Regions from separate parts of the Homo sapiens genome. Here region 1 is linked to region 2. The links come from fine-mapping of genetic effects on plasma protein levels. A gene starts in region 2. The other region holds a variant in brackets. All regions are shown on one strand. Distances are between the middles of the regions.

Region 1 (9,459 bases), 39 kb after region 2:
CAGATAAATCTACCATTATGGCAGGAACTACCACTACTCTCTCAATAATTGATAGAACTAGTGGACAGAAAATCATGAAGGATATAGAACACCTAAATAGCACCAGCAACCAACTTGACCTAATTTATCTTTAGGGTACACTCCACCCAACTACAGCAGAATACATATTCTTTTCAAATGCCCATGGATCATTCACCTTAAAATAGACAACATTCTGGGCCACAAACACAAACCTTAACAAATTTAAAGGAATGGAAATCACAGAAAACATAGCCTATGTTCATAACATTATTAAATTATAAATCAATAACAGAAAGACATCTAGCAAATCCCTAAATATTTGTTTCTGTTTGTTTTGAGATAGAGTCTCTCTCTGTCGCCCAGGCTGGAGTACAGTGGCGCGATCTCGGCTCACTGCAACCTCCGCCTCCCGGGTTCAAGCAATTCTCCTGCCTCAGCCTCCCAAGTAGCTGGGATTACAGGTGTGTGCCACTATGACCAGCTAATTTTTGTATTTTTAATAGAGACAACGGGGTTTTACCATGTTGGCCAGGCTGCTCTCAAACTCCTGACCTCAAATGATCTGCTCGCCTTGGCCTCCCAAAGTGTTGGGATTACAGGCATGAGCCACAGCGCCAGGCCACAAATCCCTAAGTATTTGGAAAGTAAAACAATGCACTTCTAAATAACCCATAGACCAAAGCTAAAGTCATAAGTGAAATTGAGAAATATTTTGAACTAAAGGAGGATGAAAACATATCAAAATTTGTGAGATGCAATGAAGTAGTGCTTAGGGGGAAACAGAGCATTAAATACCTAGATTAAAAAATAAGAGGCCAGGCGAGCAGGCTCACGCCTGTAATCTCAGCACTTTGGGAGGCTAAGGCAGGCGGATCATTTGAGGTCAACAGAGTGAGACTCCATCTCAAAAAAAAAAAAAAAAAAAGAAAGAAAGAAAGAAAGAAAGAAAAAGAAAATAAGAAATATCTCAAATCAATAACCTAAACTCCTGCTATAAGAAACTAGAAAAAATGAGCAAATTAAACCCAAAGCAGACAAAAGGAAGGAAATAATAAAGATAGAATAGAAATCAATGAAATTGGCCAGGCTTGGTGGCTCAGGTCTGTAATCCCAGCACTTTGGGAGGCCAAGACAGGTGGGTCACTTGAGGTCAGGAGTTCGAGACCAGCCCGGCCAACATGGTGAAACCCCATCTCTAATAAAAATACAAAAATTAGCCGGGCATGGTGGTGCACACCTATCGTCCTGGCTACTCGGGAGGCTGAGATGGCACAGCCGCTTGAACCTGAGAGACAGAGTTTGCAGTGAGCCGAGATAGCACCACTGCACTCCAGCCTGGGTAACTGAGTGAGTCACTCAAAAAAAAAAAAAAAAATCAATGAAATTAAGAACAAACAGTAGAGGAAATCAATGAAACGAAAAGCTAGTTCTCTGAAAAAAAATGAGTAAAATTTATAAACCTTTGGTCAGACTGACCAAGAAAAACAGAGAAGAGACACAAATTATAAATAACAGAAATGGAAGACATCACTACAGACCCTAAAAACATTAAAAGAATAACAAAGGAATACTACAAACATAAATACCCATACATTTGACAACTTAAACGAAATGGTAAAATTCCTATTGGCAGGGCGCGGTGGCTCACTCCTGTAATCCCAGCACTTTGGGAGGCTGAGGCAGGCGGATCGCTTGAGGCCAGGAGTTTGAGACCAGCCTGGCCAACATGGTGAGACCCTGTTTCTACTAAAACTACAAAAATTAGCTGGCCGTGGTGGTGCGCCCAGCTACTTGGGAGGCTGAGGCAGGAGAATTGCTTGAGCCTGGGAGGCAGAGGTTGCAATGAGCTGAGATCGCGCTACTACACTCCAGCCTGGGCAACAAGAGCAAAACTCCACCTCAAAAAATAATAATAATAATTAATTAAATAAATTTAAAAGTAAAATAAAGTTCCTATACGTCAGGATAAAAAAAATCCTATCATCTGTGCTGTGTGGGAATTTTTTTTCTTTTTTCTTTTCTTTTGAGACAGGGTCTCACTCTGTCATCCACGCTGGAGTGCAGTGGAGCAATCATGGCTCACTGCAGCCTCAACCTCCTGGGTTCCAGTGATCCTCCTGCCTCAGCCTCCTGAGTAGCTGGGATCACAGGCATGAGGGCACTATACCCGGCTAATTTTTGTATTTTTTTGTAGAGAGAGGGTCTTGCTATGTTGCCCAGACTGGTCTCAAACTCCTGGGCTCAAGCAATCCCGTTGCTTTGGCCTTCCAAAGTGCTGGGATTATAGGCATGCGCTACCACACCCAACCCATATATAGTTTTTTAAACAGAGTGAAAGACACAAACAGCCAAATTCACTCAAAACGAAATAGAGGATTTCAACTGGGCAAGGTGGCTCACGCCTATAATCCCAACACTTTGGAGTTGGGATTATAAGCCCAGGGGTTCAAGATCAGCCTGGGCAACATAGCAAGACTTCATCTCTTAAAAAAAAAAAAAAAAAAAACAGGAAGAAGAGTTTCCAGTCTAACATGTAAAGAGCTTGGAAATCACCTCTACATTCAAACAAGTAAAAAGCTGAACAAACTGAAAAATCAACCCTTCTTAGATCCATCAGAGAAGTGGGGTCACACAGCAAATTGCTATGCCCTAAATTGGTGAGACAGTCAGATAAAATCACAATTTCTTTTTTTCTTCGACAGGCTCTTGCTCTGTCTGGCGTACAGTGGCAAAATGATAGCTCACTGCAGCCTCAAATACCTGGGCTCAAGCGATTCTTCCATCTCAGCCTCTCTAATAGTTGGGACTACAAGCACGAGCCACCACACCCAGCTAATTTTTCAATTTTTGGTAGAGATGGGGTCTCCCTATGTTGTCCAGGCTGGTCTTGAACTACTGGGCTCAAGCAATACTCCTGCCTCAGCCTCCCAAAGTGCTGGGATTACAGGCATAAGCCACCACGCCCAGCCTGAGAATCACAGTTGATGGGAGCAGAAACTCACAAGCAGTAACCTCCACAGGAACCAGTGCCAGGGTAGAAAAACCTGAAGTGTAATTGACAAATTGCTGTAGGCTCAATGTGAGCAACTCAGAAAGTTAAAAACTGCAGGGGGAGAGGGTCAGGGGTTAGTGAGGCGGGAAGTGAGCGTAATAAAGTTTCTCTAGGGAGGCAGAGCCAGGGGAGAAAGTTGGAGTGGTGACCTAAGCAGGCAGTGGTGTGATCTGGAATCAAATCGGCCTGTGGTGCGGTGCGGAGACTCCATGAGGCCCTGCTTTGCTCTTCCTCTTGGCCCTGCTCTATGTCCGCTGGGACCACTTCCTTCCTGTCCTCACTTTGCTAGCTCCAATCCACAGCTGTTGTAGCAGAGGATGCTAATGGCCCAGGCTCACTTCCATGGGCTATATGGAGGTCCTGCAATCAATGCGTGCCCTCGACTTCAACACCCAACTCAGGTCACGCAGGGAGGCAGGCCATCAGTCTGGTGTGTGATGCTGTGCTGGGTGTGAAGGGGGTGACAAGGAAGAGAAAGCCCTGTAGCTGCCTGCTCAGCTCTATCCTGGGAAGGAGTAACCTGAAATTTGCTGGAATGCCAATCACTCTCAC[C/T]GTCTCCACCAGCAGCCTCAACCTCATGGCCGCAGACTGCAAACAGGACACAGCTGAGGATGTTGCCTACGTTGCCAAAGACCCTGTGAATCAGAGAGCCTGCCACATTCTGGAGTGTCCCAAAGGCCCTCCCAGGATGTCATTAGCACCATTGGCCAGGCCTTCGAGTTGTGCTTCAAACAATACCTCACGAACCCACCCCAACTGCTCACCCCCAAGACAGGATGGCTGGCTTTGATGGATCAGCTTGGGATGAGGAGGAGGAAGAGCCACCTGACCATTAGTACTATAATGACGTCCCTGGGAAGGAACCTTCTCTTGGGGAGTTGGTAGACATGAGGCTTCGGGAAGGAGCCACTTCAGAGGCTGCTTGACCCACTCCACCCAGTGTCTGGACCCCCAGCCACTTGGGAGCTACACTGCCTGTGGGATAGCCTGCTGGGGGAGATCCAGAAGTCCGCAAACAGATGCCACCTCCACCACCCTGTCCAGCAGGCAGAGAGCTCTTCAATGATCCCTATATCAACGTCCAGAACCTAGACAAGGCCCGGCAAGCAGAAGGTGGTGCTAGGCCCCCCCATCCTGCCATCAATCGCAGTGCACCCTGGGACCTCTTTGACATGAAGCCCTTTAAAGATGCTCTTTGGGTGCCTCCCCCTCCCCAGTGGTTTCCATGGCTGAGCAGCTCCAAGGGGAGCCCTGGTTCCACGGGAAGCTGAGCCAGCGAGAGGCTGAGGCATTGCTGCAGCTCCATGGCGACTTCCTGGTGCGGGAGAGCATGACCAAGGCCAGTATGTGCTTACTGGCTTGCAGAGTGGGCTGCCTAAGCACCTGCTATTGGTGGACCCTGAAGGACTGGTTTGGACAAAGGATCACTGCTTTGAGAGTGTCAATCCCAGCACTTTGGGAGACCAAGCCAGGCAGATCACAAGGTCAGGAGATCGAGACCATCCTGGCTAATACGGTGAAACCCGGTCTCTACTAAAAATACAAAAAATTAGCTGGGCGTGGTGGCAGGCGCCCGTAGTCCCTACTCAGGAGGCTGAGGCAGGAGAATAGTGTGAACCCAGGAGGCGGAGCTTGCAGTGAGCCGAGATCACGCCACTGTACTCCAGCCTGGGCAACAGAGCGAGACTCCGTCTCAAAAAAAAAAAGAGAGTGTCAGTCACCTCATCAGCTACCACATGGACAATCACTGGCCTATCATCTCTGTGGGCAGTGAACTGTATCTACAGCAACCTGTGAAGTGGAAACTGTGATCTGCCCCAGCGCCCTCTTCCAGAAGATTCCACCCTATTCCCTAACTCTCGGGACCTCATTTGGGAGTGTTCTGTGGGTTTGGCCTTGTGTCAGAGCTGAGGGTAGTGTGGACACTGGGTTTAGTATCCAGCTAAGTGAGAGAGTTTGAGTCAGAAGCCTGGGGGAGAATCTTGCTTCTCCCCAAACATTAATCACCCGAAGTATTAATGGACAGAGTGGCCCCTTACCTACGCCTTTCCTGTGCCAACCCGATGTCCCTTCCCCAAGAAGGTGAGTGCTTGTCATGGAAAATGTCCTGTGGTGATAGGCCCAGTGGAGCAGTCACCCTTCTGGGCAAGGGGGAACAAATCACACCTCTGAGCTTCAGGGTACCCCAGACACCTCTCCACAACCCCCACCCCATGTTTAAACTTTGTGCCTTTGACCACCTCCTAGGTCTGAAGATATTTTATGCAAAGAGTTCGTGCCAGATGTGGTGGCTCACACCTGTAATCCCAGCACTTTGGGAGGCCGAGGCGGATGGATCACTTGAGGTCAGGAGTTCAAGACCAGTCTGGCCAACATGGCGAAAACCCGTCTCTACTAAAAGTACAAAATTAGCTGGGTGTAGTGGCATGCACCTATAATCCTAGTTACTAAGGAGGCTGAGGCAGGAGAATCGCTTGAACCCGGGAGGTGGAGGTTGCAGTGAGCCAAGATTGTACCACTACACTCCCGCCTGGACGACAGAGTGAGATTCCATCTCAAAAAAAAAAAAAAAAAGAGTTCATGGGTCCCTGAATTCAATGACAGTGATGCCGACACCTTCTTGGCTTCTGAGACCCTGTTTTCTCCTTGCTCAGCACCCTCTCTGGTTTGGGTTGGGAGAATAGAGACAAGAATGGCATATATCCCCTCTCCCTGGGGATATGCAACCCTTAGAGATTGTCCCAGAGCCCCCCTCCCAGCCAGGGGGAAGATGGACCTGTCCCTTGCTCAGTGCCTCCTGGCCAGAGCCCCTCAATCCATTTCATAAACCCTGCCCTCCCATGATGCATGCCTATTGTACTCTATAGCCAAAATGTAGCCCTTCCTCCTGGAGCCTCTGCCCTGCCTCCCTTTCTGGGAGAGGAGGGGTGGGGGGTGACTGAATTTGGGCTTCGTGTACAGTAAACTCTCCCAGGTGGATTTTGTGGAGGTGGGAAAAGGGGCATTGAGACTCTAAAGCAGTAGACCATCCCTGAATACTATCTGCAGAGTTGGAACTGCATTCTTTTAAAATTTTATATGCATATATTTTAGGGATATAGACTTACTTTCCTAATTTTGTTTTCCATGGCTTATTCTTGAGCACAAAATGATAATCAATTATTAAATTTATACATCACCTTTTTGAATTTTCCAAGACCTTTTGCAGCTCTTGGCATTTTCGTTGCCCAGGCCTGTGAGGTAACTGGGATCAGCAGCATTATTATTTATACCAGAGACCTGAGGCAGATGAAACTGATTTCCACCTAGGACTAGAAAAACTTGGGCCTCTTACCACGAGACTGGGAGGCAGAAGTTTGCCCAAATGCATGTTAGTTTCACAAAGGGGAAATGCAAAACCTGCAGTTCCTGAGTACCTTTTACAGGCGCAGCCCTGCCTAGGCCCGGAGTGGACACACGACAGCAAGCCGGGCTTTCTCTTTAGGCCTTGTGGATAAGAGAGAGTGGGCTGTTTCCATCCTGGCCTCCTTTTGTCGTTGTTGGGATGTTTCCCCGGGTCTCACTTGTAGCAAAAGGAAAACTCTTCATTAAAGTCCGTATTTCTTCTAAACATAAAAAATAAATAAATAAAAAATAAAAATTGCAGGTGGACTAGGTCAGATGGGGCCCTATATTTTTGTGAGTTTTACCTCTAAGAGCTCTACTCAATTGCCCTTTCCTTCATATCCTGCCATCCCCTCACACCATGTACCCCAAATCACCACACTCTATTGTTTTCTTTTTTTTTTTTTTTTTTGAGAAGAGTCTTGCTCTGTCACCCAGGCTAGAGTACAGTGGTGGGATCTCCGCTCACTGCAAGCTCCGCCTCCCAGGTTCAAGTGATTCTCTTGCCTCAGCCTGCCGAGTAACTGAGATTACAGGTGCTTGCCACCACGCCAGGCTAATTTTTGTATTTTTAGTACAGATAGGGTTTCACCATGTTGGCCAGGCTGATCTCGAACTCCTGATCTCAGGTGATCCACCCACCTCGGCCTCCCAAAGTGCTGGGATTACAGGCGTGAACCACCGCGCCAGCCTAGGAAATGTTCTATATCTCTAGTATCCAATAATGTAGCCACTAGACACATAGGGCCATGGATATATGGTAAATGTGACTGAGGAACTGAATTTTCCATTTTATTTAATTTTAATTAATTTGAACTTATGGCCAGGTGCGGTGGCTCACACCTGTAATCCTAGCAGTTTGGGAGATGGAGGCAGCATTTTGGGAGGCCAAGGTAGGTAGATCATTTGAGGTCAGGAGTTCAAGACCAGCCTGGGCAACATGGTGAAACCCAGTCTCTACTAAAAATACAAAAAGGTGGCCAGGAGTAGTGGTGCAGGCCTGTAGTCCCAGCTACTTGGGAGGCTGAGGCACGAGAAGCGCTTGAGCCTGGGAGGCAGAGGTTGCAGTGAGCCGAGTTCACACCACTGTACTCCAGCTTGGGTGACAGAGCAAGACTCTGTCTCAAGAAAAAAACAAGACTGGGCACAGTGGCTCAAGCCTGTAATCCCAGCACTTTGAGAGGCTGAGGTGGGCGGATCACCTGAGGTCGGGAGTTCGAGACCAGCCTGACCAACATGGAGAAACCCCGTCTCTACTAAAAATACAAAATTAGCCAAGTGTGGTGGCTCATGCCTGTAATCCCAGCTACTCGGGAGGCTGAGGCGGAAATCACTTGAACCCGGGAGGCAGAGGTTGCAGTGAGCCGAGATCGTGCCATTACACTCCAGCCTGGGCAACAAGAGTGAAACTCCGTCTCAAAAAAACAAAACAAAAAACAAAAAAAAAAACAGGAGTTCAAGAGTTCAAGACCAGCTAGGGCAACATAGCAAGACTTCACCTTAAAATAAATAAATAAATGTAGAATGGATAAATTGTGGTATATTTATACAATGGAAATACTACAAGAACAGGTAAAACTTGTCTATGGTGATAGAGCTCAGAACCTCAGAACATTGATGATACTTGGAGGGGAATACTGAGTAAACCTGCTAAATGCGCCAGGTGCGGTGGTTCACGCCTGTAATCCCAGCACTTTGGGAGACTGAGGCAGGTGGATCACGAGGTCAGGAGATCGAGACCATCCTGGCTAACACGGTGAAACCCCGTCTCTACTAAAAATTAAAATTAAAAAAAAAATTAGCCGGGCATGGTGGCGGGCACCTGTAGTCCCAGCTACTCAGGAGGCTGAGGCAGGAGAATGACACGAACCCGGGAGGCAGAGCTGGCAGTGAGCCAAGACCGTGTCACTGCACTCCAGCCTAGGTGACAGAGTGAGACTCCACCTCAAAAAAAAAAAAAAAAAAAAAAAACTTGCTAAATGCTAGAAATATTTGATATTTTGATCTGGGTGCTGGTTACATGGTATACACATATGTAATATGATACTAAATATACATACCTAAAAGTTCATCAAGCTGTATACTTATGCTGGGTTGGGTGGCTCCTGCCTGTAATCAGCACTTTAGGAGGCTGACGCAGGCAGATCACCTGAGGTGAGGAGTTCGCGACCAGCCTGGCCAACATGGCGAAACCCCGTCTTTATTGAAAATACAAAAATTAGCTGGGCATTGTCGTGGGCGCTTGTAATCCCAGCTACTCAGGAGGCTGAGGCAGGAGAATCGCCTGAAACCTGGAGGCGGAGGTTGCAGTGAGCTGAAATCGTGCCACTGCACTCCAGCCTGGGCAACAGAGCTAGACTCAATCTCAAAAAATAAATAAATAAAAATACAAAAAAATTAGCTGGTCGTGGTGGCGCATGCCTGTAATCCCAGCTACTCGGGAGGCTGAGGCAGAATTGCTTGAACCAGGGAGGTGGAGGTTGCAGTGAGCCAAGATCGTGCCATTGCACTCCAGTCTGGGTGACAAGAGCAAAGCTCCGTCTCAAAAAAAAAAGTTGTATACTTAAAGTATGTGTACTTTACTATCTCTGACTTACACAGCAATAAAAAAATAACAAGGGACAGGCCGGGCGCAGTGGCTCACGCCTGTAATCTCAGCACTTTGGGAGGCCAAGGTGGGCGGATCACCTGAGGTTGGGAGTTCGAGACCAGCCTGACCAACGTGGAGAAACCCCATCTCTACTAAAATTACAAAATTAGCTGGGCGTGGTGGTGCATGCCTGTAATCCCAGCTACTTGGGAGGCTGAGGCAGGAGAATCGCTTGAACCCAGGAGGTGGAGGTTGCGGTGAGCCAAGATCGCGCCATTGCACTCCAGCCTGGTCAATAAGAGTGAAACTCCGTCCCAAGGAAAAAAAAAAAAAAAGTAACAAGGGACAATAACATTCTTGGCCCAAAAACGTGTGTCTTTATACCATCTTAAATAAAAATTTAAAAACAGAA
Region 2 (9,459 bases):
TCACCAGGTGATAATGATGACTGGTCCATTCCTAACGTGTGTGCACCCTGCCCCACTTCCATCCACCCCCAGACTGCTCAGGGCTGCACCTCACAACTCTGGGCCCTCCACCAGCATGGTCTCCCTGGGGACCTCACACTTCCCGCATTACTTGTCCCTCCGGGCCCATCCCTTGTTTACATCCCTTATCCTCCCTCTGAGGTTTGTATACACTCCCTGCTGGACATGAACTCCTATCGCTGCGTGGTCCCTGCCCTGCTGCCTTGGCTCAGGCTGCCTGATACACGAGCCCCGTGGCTCCTTCTCCCGTTCACTACTCAGCCCCTTGCCTGCATCTAGAGAAGACTATTTTCAAGCTCTTTCCCACCTGTCATCCCATGTGGTCACAACAGTCCAGAGAGGAAAAGGAAGTCCAGAGAGAGGGTGTGGTCAGCTCAAGATCACACAGGGCTTCCAACCCGAGGAGGTCCTCTACAGCCCACATGTCCCAGCCGTGGGACACTTCCCTTTAATGCAAAATCCCAGGGGTCTGAGTCCCTAGTCTATGAGGGCACAGAAAGCCGTATCTTCACCGAGCAATGTACATAGGTCCCTCCAGGCCACCTTGGCCAGACCACGTCCCCTCCTCCAGCCTCCTGGCTCCAGCCACCACACCTCCCTTCAGGTGCTCCCCCGTGCCATCTGGATGTCCACTCACCTTAGCTGCCACCGCAAACCATGGCCTGCTCTGCCCCAAACATGGTCTCAGACCCTCCCCTCCATCCGCATGGGGTAACAGAGGCAGGTGATCCAGTCCAGCAAGCTTTGCTGAGGACTTCAGGATAGCAGCTGAGAATTACCGGCTGAGCATGGAAGAAAAGATGTAAGGGTCTGCTCACATGGAATGGGTCTGCCCTCAGCAGTCACAGGCCAAGCTGACACCTCATTGCCAATCCCATTGCAAGAGACAGTTCCCTTAACCATCATCGAACCCCCGTCCTACCTAGTCTCAGCTTCTACTCCTTAGAGTAAGATAGAGAAAGCAGCTGGCCCTTCTAAGGCCACTACCCAGTCCTCACTTCTCACTTGAGGGCTGACTGCATCCAGGATGATTGAAAATGAGAAAGTAAGGCCAGGTGCAGTGGCTCACACCTGATATCCCAGCACTTTGGGAGGCCGAGGTGGGAAGATCACTTGAGGCCAGGAGTTTGAGACCAGCCTGGGCAACATAACAAGACCCTGTCTACAAAAAATACGAAACTCGCTGGGTGTAGTGGTGTGCGCCTGTAGTCCCCGCTACTCAGGAGGCTGAGGTAGGAGGATTACTTGAGCCGGGGAGGTGGAGGTTGCAGTGAGCCGAGATCACGCCACTGCACTTCAGCCTGGGTGACAGAGTGCGATTCTGTATCAAAAAAAAAAAAAAAAGAAAGAAAGAAAGAAAGAAAGAAAGAAAGAAAGAAAAAGGAAAAAGAAAATGAGAAAGTCTTGTCCTTTCAGAAGAACTCCACCCTCTGCCCACAGAGTCTCCCTCTGGGACAACCCATCCCAACCCGTGATCTGAGCTGTATGCTCTGAAATAACATCATACGGGGTTCGCCCTCAGCTCACTTCATTCCTGCTGACATCTGCCTGGGCTCCCGGCTTTCTCCCAAAGGAGTATAAATTTGAACGAGGACACATATGGACCTTGGGGAGGGGAATCTGAGGGCTCCTCCCTTAGTGCTCTAGGAAGTGGTAGAGCAGTAGTGACAAGAGGGACTCCAAGGAAAGAGCAGGATGGGCTGTGAGTGTGTGAAGGGCCACTCAGGGCACAGCTCAAGGCATCTTGGGGCTCTGCTCAAGCCCTCCAGGTGCCAATCTTTCTGACCACGACCATCTCTGTCCAGCCCGGGGCATAGTCAAAGGGAGGTAAGACTCCCTCGTGCCTTGCTTCCCCAGAGGGCAGCCTAGTGCCAGGCGCATGGAGGCCTTCAGATGAATCAAACTGACCCAAGTCCAAATTGGAATAAAATGAGTGAGGGTTGCCCTCACCTCTTCCTGGAAAAGCATAAACAAGAGTAAATGTGGGCCAGGCAAGGTGGCTCACACCTGTAATCCCAGCACTTTGGGAGGCCGAAGTGGGCAGATTACTTGAAGTCGGGAGTTTGAGACCAGCCTGGCCAACATGGTGAAACTCTACTAAAAATACAAAAATTAGCTGGGTGTGGTGTTGGGCGTCTGTAATCCCAGCTACTCAAGAGGCTAAGGCAGGAGAATCACTTGAACCCGGGCGGTGGAGGTTGCAGTGAGCTGAAATTGAGCCACTGCATTCCAGCCTGGGCGACAGAGTGAGACTCCATTTCAAAAAAAAACAAAAAACAAAAGAGGCCTGACACAGTGGCTTATACCTGTAATCCCAGCATTCTGGGAGGCAGACGAATCATCTGAGGTCAGGAGTTCAAGACCAGCCTGGCCAACATGGTGAAATCCCATCTCTACTAAAAATACAAAAAGTAGCCCGGCATGGTGGTGGGCGCCTATAATCCCAGCTACTTGGGAGGCTGAGGCAGGAGAATCGCTTAAACCCAGGAGGCGGAGGTTGCAGTGAGCCGAGATTGCGCCATTGCACTCTAGCCTGGTCAACAAGAGCGAAACACCGCCTCAAAAAAAAAAAAAAAAAAAAAAAAAAAAAGATTAAATGTGACATTGGGCAGAGTTAGAAAAGAAACATCTACATTCAGCCAGGGCAACAAGAATGATCTAGAACATGTGGTGTGAGTGGAAAGAACCAGCGTCCAAGCTGCTGTGCCTCTGCCTGGCTGTCTGGTGGGGCTGCCAGGGGGTGGTGCCTGCAGAACAGCCAAACAGCTGGCCAGATTTTCCCCCTAAGCCAGATGATGCCATTTGTTGTTCCACCCCCAGCCAGCTGTCAGTCCTTCCCGGGCCCCAGGAGAGGTGCCCCATTGCTGCCCCCTGCACTCAGCTGTCTCTGACTCCTAGGGCAGGCAGAGGGGCAAGGGGACTGGGCACACTGGCTGGGTCAAGGAGTCAAAGGTCTTCACTTGGCACTCACTGCCACAGGCCATAGGAAGCCAACCCAGTGTGGGCCCAGGGTTTGGGACAGATCCCACCAGCTGGAGCAGGAGAAGGCACCTCCAGCCCCCTTTAGCCAGGGCCTCTCTCTGTTCCTGACCGGCACCAAGGCCTGGGTGGTGGGAGGGGCTCAGATCTGGCAGAACACCAGCTGTCCAGGCAGATTAGCAGGTCGGAGTGCCCACGCTGGCTTCACCAGCCCAGAGGACTTGGGCAAGTCACTGCTCTCCTTTTGCTGCCCTTTCTCTGTGAGAGGTGAATAAACATCGTAAACAGTGTTGTCCTCAGATGGGCTTAGAGAGCTTGGCAAGCTAGAGCGTGTGAAGTCCAGGCATGGTGCACTGCACGGGGCAGGTGCTGGTCCGTTGGGCATTCTTTTTCCTGGGAAAGCCTCTCTGTGGCTTTGTTTCCTCCTCTGTGAAGTGGGGGGTTTGTAGGAATCCAGCGTGACCACAAGATGAAGGCCTCAGCATAATTCCTGGAACCGAGGTCCTCCATAAACAGGATTCTGCCTCAGGACCCGTGTCCCTCCCCTTTTCTCTCTCCACAGGACTCAGCCCCTGGCAGGCTTGTGGTGCAGATAGTGAATGGTCTTGCAGTGGCGGGATTTGTCCACCTGTGTGTCCCTGTGTTTGAGTTTCTTCTGCTTGAGTCTGAACTTCAGGCTGGTGGCCACATAACCCAACACTCTCACTTTACGGATGAGAAAACAGAAGCCCAGAGAGGGCCAGGGACTTGTCCAGGTTCCTTCAGCCAGTCCATGCCGGAGCTGTACTAGGACACCCTCCTCTCTGTGCCCAGAGCGATGGCCACAACACCCCTTTCTGTCTGCTTGAAAACCCCTCTTCATTCTTGCTGATCTGTACTCATCTTTCAGTCTCTGCCTCTTTAGCAACCAGAGCCTACGAAGAGGTGACCAGGCTCTGGTCACCCCCCAGAGCAGAGAAACTGGGGGTGTAGGGGTGGGAACTGAAGGGGAGGGGCATGGCAGGGGCTGAGAATGCGGCTGTTCTGGCCTGGGGGCCTGAGCCAGGCTGCCTACAGAGGAGCCAGTATGCCCAGACATTAGAGCTTTGTGAGTTGAAGAGCTTGGTGTGGGGATGGTTGTTTTGTTGAGCTGACATTGTTTCAGGTTGACTGAATGTCAGTGTCTTAGTGTCCAGGAGCCAGCTCTTTAGAACCAGCCAGGGTCTTGGGGAGAATGTGGCTGGGGCATCCTAGTCTGGATCAAGGAGGGGAGGGGGCTGTCCGTGCCCCGTGAGTGCTGAGCAGTTCCCTGTGGAGAAAACTGCAGAGGAGGAGTGAGTCCTAGCGTGGATACCAAGAGAGACGAGAGGAGCAGGCGCCCTTGCACCTTGGGGCCAGAGCAGAAGGGCCTGGCCAGAGTGGAGGATGGACAGAGGCAGGACAGGGACCTCTGGAGGCTGGTGCCTTCCTGCCAGGGCACTGGGAGCCCTGAGGACAGAGCGATCAAACCTTCATCCACAAAGGAAGAGTCAGGAGAACCATGGGGACCAGGAGGGCCCCGAGAGGCCTTGGGGGCTGGCCAGGCGGGTGGGGTGGGCCAGACTCACAGCTGTCCAGATGTGGGTAAGAGATAACTCTGTTTACTGGGCACCCAGTGGGAGCGGGGTGGGGGGTGTGGGAAGGGGCTCCCAGGGCCAGTGGGGCGGGCAGATTAGGAGGCGGGGGCATGAGTCAGGGGTTTGCGAGCTGCCCCTGGGGCGCTGGTGCTGTCAGAACGAGTGGGAACGTAGCTGGTCGCAGAGGGCACCAGCGGCTGCAGGACTTCACCAAGGGACCCTGAGGCTCGTGAGCAGGTGGGCAGGGCAGGGAGGGGCTGGGGATGGTCCTTCGGTGCCTGCCCTGAGGGCTTCTACAGGTGCCCAGCCTGAATCTATGCCCAGGTGGGCCAGGCTCCTGACCTCCAAGGGGGTGCAGGTGGGTGGGGTGAGAATGTTACCATGCATATGTTGCCCCTAAGGGAACAGGCCCATTGGCACCTGAAAAGAGGAGGGTGGCAGGTGGTCAATGGCAGCAGAGGTATGTGTGGCTCCGGTGCGTGTGTTGCGGGGGGTATCTGATCCCCTCCAGGTATGGGCCCTTGTCAGCTTGTTGGATCCCACAGGGTCAGGTCTTGTCCACCCCAGACTCCTTCCTTCCTAATGGGGTCCTCAGACCACCCCCTCTCCCACCTAGGAGGCAGGATGTCAGCTGACACAGTATCCCCTTTGGGACACTTCCAGGGGTCTACCTGGGGCACCTGGCTCCACGCCCAGCGTGGTCAGTATTGGAGGGAACTGCAGAGCCTCCTACCACATGAGAATCTCAAAACACTTAGCTCAGGCTAATTCCATGGGAACTGAGGGCAAATCAGAGGGGAAATGAAGATGGCAAGTCTGACTGTAACCCCAGCAGCAAGGGATAATGACAGCAAACATTTTCATAGCGCTCCTTATATGCTAGGCACTGTTCTAAGCCCCTTACAAATGTAAATTTCCTTAATGCTTACAACAGGTCTATGAGATGGGCATCATTATCATCACCCCCATTTTACAGATGAGAAAACTGAGGCACAGAGAGTTGAAGTCACACGCCGTTAGTAAATGGCAGGGCTGGGCTTTGAATCCAGGCAGTCCGACTGCAGAGTCCGTGATCTTAACAACTAACTCTAAACCAGCTAACAGTTGTTTTGTTGGAGGCAACTTAGCATAGTGCTTAGGGATGTGGCTGGAGTCAGGTAGTCCAGGCTGTAACCTGGCTCTGATACCTACCTGCTGGGTGGCTGAAGCAGGTAAATGTCTCTGAACCTCAGCTTTCGCATCTGTAGAATGGATTAATGACATTACTCTTCTTCCTCTTAGAATCCCCAAACCACTTCACAGAATGCTTTGGGGATTCTAAGAGTTAAGGCAGTACAGTTCTTTGTGCAGTTCGGGCTGATTACACAAAGGTGGTGCCATACCACTAGGAAGTTGTCCCTGTCATCTGGTCAATCCCCTCTCCCGCCGTGTCTTCCCAGCTGTGCTATACCTTCTAGGCTCAGATGTCCCGCTCACCCTTATCTGGCCTGGCCCTGGCCAGCTGGCTAGCTGGCCAGGTGTTTGGTGCACTTCCAAAACTTGGGGCAGCGATCTGGGTCCAGGCCCTTATCAGTGCTAGGCAGCACAAGGCCTGCAGCTGGGGGGCGGCCTGGCTGGCGGGTGGCAATCTGGGTCATGGGTGCGCCCTGTAAGTCTCCAACTGAGCTCAAGGCACCTCTGTTTTCCCCTCTTCTCTCTCACTGATGTCTCAGAACCCTGGCAGGAAGGCACTCCCATTGTACAGATGGGGTGACTGAGGCCTACAGGCTGGAAGCTGCCCAAGGCCCTTCAGCCAGTCAGTGGCAGAGAGGCAGCCTGGACCTCTGGATTCTGCAGCTCTGAGGGCCCCTCTGACCATTCCACTCCTCAGATAGGCAACCAAGGCCACAGTCCCAGCCCCATGGGTGGGACTTTTAGTACCTAAGGCTTAGACACCCTGGAGGCCTTAGCATCTGAGGCCTAAGAAAGTGCATGGGCAAGTCCAGAGAAGGAAGAAAGTGAATAAAGATGGAAGAGAAAGAGGAACTTTGGGAGAAGCAGAGAGGGAGGAGGAAAAAGAGAGAGAAGAGGTGGGTCATCAGGGTCCTCAGGAGCAAAGCCAAGCCCTGCAGTAGGGACTACCTCGTCCTCAGGTCCAGGACCCCTCCCCCGCACCCCATCACTTGCCCCACCTGCCAAGGCAGGGGTCTCTCCCATTCTCCAGTCTGGTGAGATCCAGTAATCCCCTCCCTACCCCCAGGACTGCAGGGTCACCCATTCCTCAGAAAGAAGGCTGTTTGCACATCCCTTTCTTTCTTTTTTTTTTTTTTTTGAGACGGAGTCTCGCTCTGTTGCCCAGGCTGGAGTGCAGTGGCGCAATCTCGGTTCACTGCAACCTCTGCCCCCTGGTTCAAGGGATTCTCCTGCCTCAGCTTCCTGAGTAGCTGGGATTACAGGCATGCGCCACCACGCCTGGCTAATTTTTGTATTTTCAGTAGAGATGGGGTTTCACCATGTTGGCCAGGCTCCCTGCCCCATGCCCTCACGTGGCATTTTCCCACCTTGCTCAGCCCACCTGTTCAGCTCCACCCAGGCATGCCTCACATCTGGACTCCCAGCCCTTCACATCTCACCAGTGCTTGGCTGGGCACGGTGGCTCACACCTGTAATCCCAGCACTTTGGGAGGCCGAGGTGGGTGGATCACGAGGTCAGGAGATTGAGACCATCCTGGCTAACACAGTGAAACCCCGTCTCTACTAAAAAAATACAAAAAATTAGCTGGGCGTGGTGGCGGGCGCCTGTAGTCCCAGCTACTCGGGAGGCTGAGGCAGGAGAATGGCGTGAACCCAGGAGGCGGAGCTTGCAGTGAGCCAAGATCGCGCCACTGCACTCCAGACTGGGAGAGAGAGCAAGACTGTGTCTCAAAAACAAGAAAAACTCACCTGTGTTTTTAGGCTAGCGCCAGTGACCCCTCCTCCGGTGACTCCACCCCCGAGTGCTGCAAACGCGTCCTGCTCTTCTTCCTGCCATACAGATCCTTGGCACTCAGCACTTTCGGCCCCTGGGGTCCATGTCACCTCGGAAGCACTGAGGCTGCCCTGTGTTCCCAGTTTGCCTCCCTGTCGCGGCTAGGAGCTTCCCCAGAGTAGAGACGGGCCTTGTTCAGCTCAGCACCCCCTCCCACCAGCCCCCAGTGCTCAGCACCCCCTCCCACCAGCCCCCAGTGATCAGCAGCCCCTCCCCACAGCCCCCAGTGCTCGGCACCCCCTCCCACAGCCCCCAGTGCTCAGCACCCCCTCCCCACAGCCCCCAGTGCTCGGCACCCCCTCCCCACAGCCTCCAGTGCTCAACACAATGCCAGGCACAGAGTGGGAACCTTTGTTGAACCGACCCAATTGCCTGTCACCTCAATGCCCTGTGCTGTAGTGGGCGAGGAGGGAAAAGAGGCACCTCCACACCCAGTCTGGGGCCACCTTAGGTGACCCCTGTCCTCCCCTTGGACCTGCCCTCACATTCCTGGGGAAGGCACACCTTCCTCTCTGCTAGGGACACAACTGAGAAAACTGAGACCCCGAGCTCAGAGGCCTCTTGGCTGGGGCCTAGTCATCCTGGCTCCCCAGTCTCAGAGCCCCAACCCCGCAATAGGGAGCCATTCTTACAATCATTCAGTAAATGTTTATTGAGCACCTACTACGTGACAGCCACTCTGCTAGGAGTAGTGAATTTCGTGGGGATGGGACATACAGGGTCTTCGCACTCAGGTAGTTTCCCTTCCAAAAGCATTGTCAGATAATATGAACACAAATCAATCAAGAAACCACGTATTGGTTTTTTTGTTTTGTTTTGTTTTCCTTCTAAAGAGTCTCACTCTGTCACCCAGGCTGGAGTGCAGTGGTGCCATCTTGGCTCACTGCAACCTCTGCCTCCCAGGCTTAGGCAATCCTCCCACCTCAGCCTCTCAAGTAGCTGGGACTACAGGTATACGTCACCACACCCAGCTAATTTTTGTATTTTTGTAGACATGTGGTTTCACTATGTTGCCCAGTTGGTCTCGGACTCCTGAGCTCAAGCAATCTGCCTGCCTCAGCCTCCCAAAATGTTAGGATTACAGGTGTGAGCCACCACGCCCAACCAAGAAACCATTTAAAAATTAGTCAGGCATGGTGGTGTGTGCTAGCTACTCTGGAGGCTGAGGTGGGAGGTTCACTTAAGTCTAGGAGTTTGAGACTGATGTGAGCTGTAATCATGCCACTGCATTCTAGCCTGGATAACAGAGGGAGACCCGCTCTCAAAAAAATAAAAAAGAAGAAAGAAATCAGCAGCCCACACTGAGATAGTGAGACCCTGTTTCTACACACAGATTTTTTTTTTTTTAATTACCTGGGCACTGTGGCATGCCTATAATTCCAGTTACTCAGGAGGCTGGGCCAGGAGGATCCCTGGGGCCCAGGAGTTCAAGGCTGCAGTGAACTATGATCATGCCACTGCACTCTAAGCCTGGGTGACAGAGTGAGACTCTGTCTCAAAAAGGAAGAGAGAGAGAGAGGAAGGAAGGAAGGAAGCAGGGATGGAGGAAGGAAGGAAGGAAGGAAGGAAGGAAGGAGGGAAGGGAGGGAAGGAGGGAGGGAAAAGAAACCAGAACATGACAGATTGGGTCAAGGTGGTGGCCAGGGAGGGCCTCTGAAGAGGAGACATTTGGGCCGAGATGTGAGAAGGTCTGAGGTATTGGGGGGAGGGTGTCCGGGATATGGACAGCTGGATGTGCAAAGGCCCTGGGACAGGAAAGGGCTTAGTGAGTTCTAGGAACCACAGGAGGCCAATAGGCTAGGTGGGGAGAGAGCGAGA

Direction of the effects. Alleles are on the strand shown, and positions count from the first base shown. The strength of an association depends on the size of the effect and on how common the allele is.
With allele C in place of T in region 1, the plasma level of the protein whose gene starts at base 4,790 in region 2 is higher (weak association).

Evidence for each region. A credible set is the group of variants that fine-mapping cannot tell apart. PIP is the posterior inclusion probability: the model's chance that the variant is causal. Protein levels are from antibody-based Olink assays in UK Biobank. Linkage for the fine-mapping came from a reference panel and not from the study's own genotypes, which makes the PIPs less certain.
Region 1: its variant is the best candidate, but not a certain one, in a credible set for the plasma level of the SLC4A1 protein (UK Biobank, PIP 0.64).

Annotation. Positions count from the first base shown.
Region 1 is chr17:44,224,185-44,233,643 of GRCh38, reverse strand. It overlaps the pseudogene SHC1P2. Among named protein-coding and RNA genes, the nearest start is that of UBTF, 9.2 kb to the right of the region's middle. The variant C/T (reference allele first, on the strand shown) is at 3,626.
Region 2 is chr17:44,263,466-44,272,924 of GRCh38, reverse strand. It overlaps SLC4A1 (solute carrier family 4 member 1 (Diego blood group)), which reads left to right and starts at 4,790. Exons shown (of 20, transcript NM_000342.4): 1 at 4,790-4,871.